Homo sapiens: one gene and its partner. The protein of the gene in region 2 purifies or fractionates together with the protein of the main gene of each other region. This does not show direct contact. Each region holds a gene or a part of one and is shown on either strand. Other genes may lie near its edges.

Region 1 (3,815 bases), on a different chromosome or scaffold from region 2:
GCTCACTGCAACCTCCACCTCCTAGGTTCATGTGATTCTCCTGCCTCAGCCTTCTGAGTAGCTGGGATTACAGGTGCCCGCCACCACACCCAGATAATTTTTGTATTTTTAGTAGAGATGGGGGTTTCATCATGTTGGTCAGGCTGGTCTCGAACTCCTGACCTGAGGTGATCTACCCGCCTCGGCCTCCCAAAGTGCTGGGATTACAGGTGTGAGCCACCGTGCCTGGCCTTTTTTTTTTTTTTTTTTTTGAGACGGAGCTTTGCTCTTGCTGCCCAGGCTGGAGTGCAATGGCATGATCTGGGCTCACTGCAACCTCTGCCTCCCGGGTTCAAGCAATTCTCCTGCCTCAGCTTCCCAAGTAGCTGGAATTATAGGCGTGTGCCACTACACCCGGCTAATTTTTTGTATTTAGTAGAGACGAGGTTTCACCATGTTAGTCAGGCTGGTCTCAAACTTTTGACCTCATGTGATCTGCCCGGCCTCAAGACTCCTTTAAATGTGCCCTCCTCTGTGAGACTCTTCCCAACAATTCCTGTCTCTCTGATCCAATCCTGGGTCAGCCTTTTTTTTTTTTTTTTTTTTGAGACGGAGTCTCGCTCTGTTGCCCAGGCTGGAGTGCAGTGGCGTGATCTCGGCTCACTGCAAGCTCCGCCTCCCAGGTTCACACCATTCTCCTGCCTCAGCCTCTTGAGTACCTGGGACTACAGGCGCCGCCACCACGCCCGGCTAATTTTTTGTATTTTTAGTAGAGACAGGGTTTCACCATGTTAGCCAGGATGGTCTGGATCTCCTCTGACCTCATGATCCACCCACCTCAGCCTCCCAAAGTGCTGGGATTACAGGCGTGAGCCACCGCGCCTGGCCGGGTCAGGCTCTTTCTAATCTGTTTAAAACCATATCACCCAGAAGGTATTCAGTATATACTTATTTAAATGAATTGAAAGTCATATGAGCAGCATGGACTTACTACTTTAAAAACCACATTATTAGAAACCTAACACCTTGGAAGCTCTGCATATTCTGAATGAAGAATATACTAAACCACTCAGAGGGAAATAGTTATTAACCATTTTACCACAGACGACTAAACAACTACCATGGCCCTTCCCTTGTTTCAGCTGGTCTGGGTCTTAAAAAGACTTTGGAAAACCCAATCTACCCTCCTCTAGCAGCAAATCAATTCCCACAGTCAGCCAGGAGGTTCTAACCACTGCCCTACCTCTTTCAACAAGGAACAAGCCCTAGATTTTTGCTGTTTCTAAAAATATGCAGCTTTTAAATATATCCATCATTTTGGTGCTCTCTACTGCAGAGCTTAATAAAAGCAAAGCCACTGAAATTCAGGAGATGTCACAGCTCAAAGTACTCCCGTGTCAAGCAGAATGTCTGGGCATGACTGATGGCATAATTTCCCCACAGAACAACAGTCTTGTCCCACGTCAAGGAAACATACATAAAAACACGCAAAGTTCTCACAAATAAGATCCTCTGCGTTTTAGCTAGAATGGCAACAGTGATCTTTGTGGATGTTTTTTTTCTTTTTTAAGAATGGACTTGAAGCCAAGAATTTGAGACCAGCCTGGGCAACAAAGTGAAACCTTCCACAAAAAAAAAAAAAAAAAAAAAAATTGCCAGGCTTGGTGGCACATGCCTGACATCTCAGCTACTCAGGAGACTAAGGTGGAGGATCTCTTGAGCCCAGGAGGTTAAGGCTGCAGTCAGCTGTGATTGCACAATGGCACTGCAGCCTGGGCAACAACAGAGCGAGACCATATCTTAAAACAAAAAAAAAAAAAAAAAAAAAGGAATGCAATACCATTGTCACAAAAATAATGGTTTATCTTCATTAAAAAAATTCTTTACGAGGCAGGCGGATCACTTGAGGTCAAGAACACAAGACCAGCCTGACTGATGTGGCGAAACCTTGTCTCTACTAAAAATACAAAAATTAGTCGCTGTGGTGGCGCATTCCTGTAATCCCAGCTACTCAGGAGGCTGAGGCAGGAGAATCACTTGAACCAGGCAGGTGGAGGTTTCAGAGAGCGGAAATTGCGCCACTGCACTCCTGCCTGGGAAACAGAGCAAGACTCTGTTTCTAAATAAATAAATACATAAATAAGTAAGTAAAAAAATTCTTTTGCATTCATGTTCACATTTAATAGCTAGCTGAGCTATACCCTGAGACCTAAACAACCCCGAGCTCCTTTATCTTAAATTCTCGTCTTATGCCAAGGTCCAGTGTTTGGTTCATTTCCCTCATCTGAGAAAGACTTGGTCAACAAAAGGCAGTACAGGAAATAGTGCTGATGCTATGCTGGAGGCCCACACTGCCTTTATTTTCACCCCCACCAAAAACCCTTGGGCAACTGGTACAAGTCAATGATTCACCAAATCCCAACTCTAAGCTTTACTGGATGTCCTTAAACTCCCCTTGTGGTTGCTCAGAGATCAATGATTAGCTGTCACCACCTCACAGGAATCTGGCACACTCCTGTTTCTCAAAAGGGGCCCTGAAATTGAGCACTCCACTGCTCAGGTGGGACCAGCTGAATTTTAATAGATGTACGTACAGTTGCAAAGCTTAGAGAGGCAGGACTTCTGTAGTGGATAATTGTGTACTAGACCTTGGGAATCCCACGGAATGAGAGATTTTCTGTGAACCCATTATCTTATCTTATTACACGTCAGACTCCAAAAGAAGGGGAACTAGGAAACCAAATGACTCAATGCTGGTAGAAACAAATGCAGGGCCTCCAGCCTTCTCTACAAGCACTCTATCCTGCTGGGAAACTGATGAAAGCCAACCACAGACATGATGCCCTGAAGAACTTGGTACCTGAGCCAGACCCTGAGGTGGAGAGATCGTAGACAAGATCCTGGAGCGTCTTGTCTTTGGAGAGACACATCTCACATGAGGGATCTTCCATGTCCAGTCTCTGGCGGTTGTGATAGACACGCTGATGATAGTTAATGACAAGGAAAACAATGATGATGATGAGGAACAGGAGGAACACCGGGCCGGCGATGATGCCTACCAGCTCCACCGGGCCCCACATGGACGGGTGCTCAGGCTCCTTGAGGTGACCTGAGTCAAGTGAGAGAGGAGAGGGAAAGAATGAGAAGTAAAAACAAGGGAAAGAGTAAAAACACCCCCCTCAAAGTGAAGAGTGAAAAAGACCCCTTTCCCTGTCGATGTGTTCAGGCTCCCTTGATCTCTCTAATCTTCTGGGCTAGTCTTGCTGCCTAGATGCTCTCAAATGCCCAACTTCTTTAGTTAAGGCACCTCTTTCCACAGTCAAACCCACAACCCACTTTGTCACCTCACGCATTTCGTGGTACTATCCCCGCCTCAGGCCCCTACACAGATGCCTGTTTCTGCCCTTTAACTTCCCACAGCTCCTCTAAGCTCTGCTTTAGTTTCTCTCCTTTTCCTGTGGGCTCCACAGTAATGCCTCCTGAATGGTAGGCTTGCAAAAGGATGGTATGTGGTGTTTCTCGGCTTTGGTCACTGGCCTTTTCCTATTCTGGTCCCTCCTCACATCTAACCATCATCCTCCCTTGAGGAGTCACCTTTGCTCGGCTCTGGGGCCATCTCTTTCTGGATCAGTCCCACATCCTCCCGTGGGAATCCCTGCCTGGTTCTTCCACTCCTCACCGCTGCCTATGGCTGCTAAGCCACTACTCTAAACACTGCGGGCACCTCTGGGACTAACTTGAAAATCTGCTTCCTCACCCTCTAATCTACAAAAGCAACTGCTGAGAAACCCCAGCCTTTGTCACCTTCGGGAACATCCAAAAGGCATCTTTATCGT
Region 2 (3,815 bases):
CCCTTGTTGGGGTATATGTTGCAGTAACATGGTCAACATGAGCAAGGCTTTGCCCCCACTCCCCAGACCCATCCTTAGCCCATGGTCAATGCTCAGTTGCGTTAATCTGGGGTAAGCATAGGCCAGGTAAAAGTAATCAGAAGTCCTTCTAGTTAAATTAAGGGAGATGGTTAAGAAAAGGCAGGAAATATTTATATGCAAACTTTTCACACTTTACACTAAAGCATCTGCAACATAAATTAAGATTGATTCTTACAAAATTCTGGCATTTCAGAGATAAAGAGATCTCAAATTTTGACTAGTCCCATTCCTTACCAGATGCTGGAATCTCCTCGAATACCTCCCCATCAAGTTGTCATCCTCACTTTGCTCTAATATGGCTGGTGACATGAAACTCATTACCTCCCAGGCAGGTTTGTCCACCTTTAGACACTTCTATGAGAGAATTCTTCCCACATTGGACTGTATCTTTGAATCTGCATCTTTGAAGCCTCCTATCCCGTGGTCCTTGCTGCATCTCATGGTGCTACTCAGAATAAATCTCATCTTTCTGTGTCTGGTGGCCCTCATAATACTGGCCTTGTAGATTCCTTTGAGTCTTCTCAGAGCAGCATGGTCTAGTGACTGGAACATGGGCTTGGAGCCAGACAGACCTCAGTCCTAATCCTAGCTTCACCATTCACAGGCACATGATCTCGGAAAAGCTACATATGCACTTTCCTGAGCCTCCATTCTATAATTCAGCGTAGGTCTAAGCGTACAACGTGAGTTCATTGAGTAAGCATGGAAAAGGCACCTGGCATGAAGCTGTCCTTCTTTGATGTCCTGGTCAGTTCCTTTCACCATATATACCCATGAGCTTCCCATGGGGGCAGAACTATTAGAACATCTTCCTGACCCAGGGCCACCATGCTCCACTGCAATGCCTGCTCCTGCCACCTGGACATCCTGGCTTGTTTTCCGTCTGAACAGCCTGAATTGGTGAATATTCATCTCTCACTCATCTCTGACCTGCAATTACTCCTCTCTCCTTTCATCTGTGATTTTCCGGGTTTGCTTTTCTATCCTCAAACAAGCTCACTAATTTCTGAGACAGAAAATGCCAGCAATGGCCGGGCATGGTGGCTCACGTCTGTAATTCCAGCACTTTGGGAGGCTGAGGCGGGTGGATCACCTGAGGTCAGGAGTTCGAGACCAGCCTGGCCGACATGGCAAAACCCTATCTCTACTAAAAGTACGAAAACTAGCCAGGCGTGGTGGCGAGCACCTGTAATCCCAGCTACTCAGGAGGCTGAGGCAGGAGATTTGCTTGAACCCAGGAGGCGGAGGTTGCAGTGAGTCGAGATGGTGCCACTGCACTCCAGCCTGAGCAACAAGAGTGAAACTCTGTCTCAAAAAAAAATTATGACAAAGGGCTTAATATCCCTAACCTATGTGTTCATGTTGATCAATAAGAAGAGAAACACACTCATTGAAAACTGGGCTAAAACACTGTCTTCAGAGCCCCTGCAACTTCCAGGAAAGGGAAGCAAGAGAGGGAAGAGCAGAGCATTAGGGGTAGGTGCCCTCACCTGGTGGCGATCCACCGCAATGGCTGTCAGTGTCAGTGCTGAGACGTGCAGTGAGCAGTACTGGGCAAAGCGGCTGACATGGCACATGCCCTTCCCAAATATCCATGTGCTGTTCACAAAGCGAACCTGGAGATGAGCCCAAAGATGTTAGGAGACAGACAGGCCTTGACTTTGACACCCATCCCTAGAGGTCTCTGAGGAGCATGCCCTTAGGGGGATTCCTCCAGCTCCTCCCTTCTTTCTGTCTATGATACTGAATTGTGGAGTAAACATGATTTTCTCCAGCACAACTCATTTTCATTCATTCAATTCAACAAACCCTGATCATGCTTCTGGGCCAGGCTCCATTAGGTGCCAGGAGAGCCTGGGAAGGATGTGTGCTATGGAGTTGGACTTCCCACCTCTAATAGTTTCTTACTGTGAGGGCTTGGGCAAGATAGGTAACCTCTCTGAATCTGTTTCCTCATTTGCAAAAAAAAAAAAAAGCCCTAAAAAATCTCTTCCTTATAGGCTTAGTATAAGGTTTAAATTTTTTAAATGTCTGTAAAGGGCAAAACACAATGTCTGGCAGATTGTTCAGATATTATTAGAAGTAAATAGTAGCTATCTTTATGTGCAATAACAAAATTCATTCTTGGTCCACACAAGTTCACTCTAGTAGGGGAGACATATCTGAATTGTCACAACATAGCATGTGGGCTGTGCTGGCAAATCTTGGCTAAACTGGCCTTGCAAGTCATCATCTGGGGAGGACACCCAGGGACCTGGAGAGGTATGAACAGGTGTGGGGAGAGAAGACAAGCTCCCCAAACCGTGTAGGGCCCTAGAAGCAGGCCCGGTCCTTATCCCACATCACCCAGCACTATTTACTCATTCAATTAGTACTTGAGCAGCTCCTGTGAGTAACGTCCCATGCCTGAGAGAGATTGAGCATTGATTCTGATTAAGGAGTTTGCAGCCAGGGCAGAGGCGGGCTCAACTCAAGTGCAAGACAGAAAGTAATCAGTGCTCTGTAGAGACTGATTAAAGGGCAATGGGGCCACCACATAGGGATGGGAGTGGGCAGAGGCACAGAGGCATAGAAATAGGGCAAGTTGGCCCAAGAGAAGGAGTATAATGTAGTGACTTACAGCAGGGTGTTTGCCACTGATCACTGTGACCTTGGGCAAGGCATTGGGCCCTCTGAGCCCCACTTTCCTCATCTGTAAAATGGGCTAACCCTTTTCACATGGTTGTTACATCAATCAAGATTGTTAACACATGTAAAGTAGGTACAACAGTGCCTAGTACATAGCAAGTACTTAACGCTATCAACTGCCATTATTACAACATATGAGACATTTGAACTGAAGAGGGATTTGCACATGTGGAGATGAGGACAAAAGGCATTGGCACTGGATCAGAAATCCCAGGACCTGTTTGGGGAATAAGGAGTGGATTGGCTTGTCTGGAGTGTGTGAACAAGAGTCATGTCAAGTCCGGCCAGATCTTGAAACTAGGACAACAGACCAGGGATGTTACTTTCTTTGCAGAGGACAGGGAGGAGCCATTGAGGCTTTTGAGCAGTTCAGTAACATTATAGAGCTAGAAATCTTCAGCTATTCCAACTTCTCACCCTTCACATTGGGATTACCAAATCCAACCAGTTCTGCCTCTCACTGATTTTCAAAACTGTTCCCTCTTCTTCAGTCCCAAGGCCATGGGCCTTGTGGGGTACCCCATTATCTCTCCCTTGGACTATTATAGCCTCTGAACAGCTTTCCCAGTTCTCCAGGTTTGTCACCTTGGAATTCAGCCTTCACACTCCTGACAGCATTTCTGCTAACCACAATCATATTGTTGTCACCCTCCTGTTTGGAATCATCCTGGCTCTCAGGACAGAGTATCCAGGCCCCTTCACAACCTGGCCCCGCCTTTCCTTCTGGCCACCTCCGCTTCTCCCTCCCCTGCCCACTCCTCCGCTGTGCTTCCTGATGCTCCAGCTTCATTGAGCCACTCAATGTTCCCTCAACACAAAGTGAACTTTGATGCTTCGATGCCTTTGTTCTCCCTGGTCCCTCTGTCTGCACTAAGTGTTCATCTCAACCCGGGAAATTTCTATTCAGTCAGGTCCTGTTGAAATGTCACATTCTTTGCAGTCTCCTTTGACCCTCTCGTGGGACTCTGATGGGTCAGAATGAAAGACTCCCTCCTCTACGTTCTCTGTGCATCTATCTTTATCTACCATGGGAACTGTAAGTAATT

The links.
Region 1: the proteins of GPR83 (region 2) and ACVR1B purify together in Homo sapiens (affinity purification with mass spectrometry; one large-scale study listed by BioGRID and IntAct). This does not show direct contact.

Annotation. Positions count from the first base shown.
Region 1 is NC_000012.12:51,975,600-51,979,414, reverse strand, and holds part of ACVR1B (activin receptor type-1B isoform a precursor), read right to left. Parts: intron 3,089-3,815; coding exon 2,840-3,088; intron 1-2,839. UniProt on the Homo sapiens protein: Transmembrane serine/threonine kinase activin type-1 receptor forming an activin receptor complex with activin receptor type-2 (ACVR2A or ACVR2B).
Region 2 is NC_000011.10:94,394,828-94,398,642, forward strand, and holds part of GPR83 (G-protein coupled receptor 83 isoform 1 precursor), read right to left. Parts: intron 1,698-3,815; coding exon 1,572-1,697; intron 1-1,571. UniProt on the Homo sapiens protein: G-protein coupled receptor for PEN, a neuropeptide produced from the precursor protein, proSAAS (encoded by PCSK1N). Acts through a G(i)- and G(q)-alpha-alpha-mediated pathway in response to PEN. Plays a role in food intake and body weight regulation.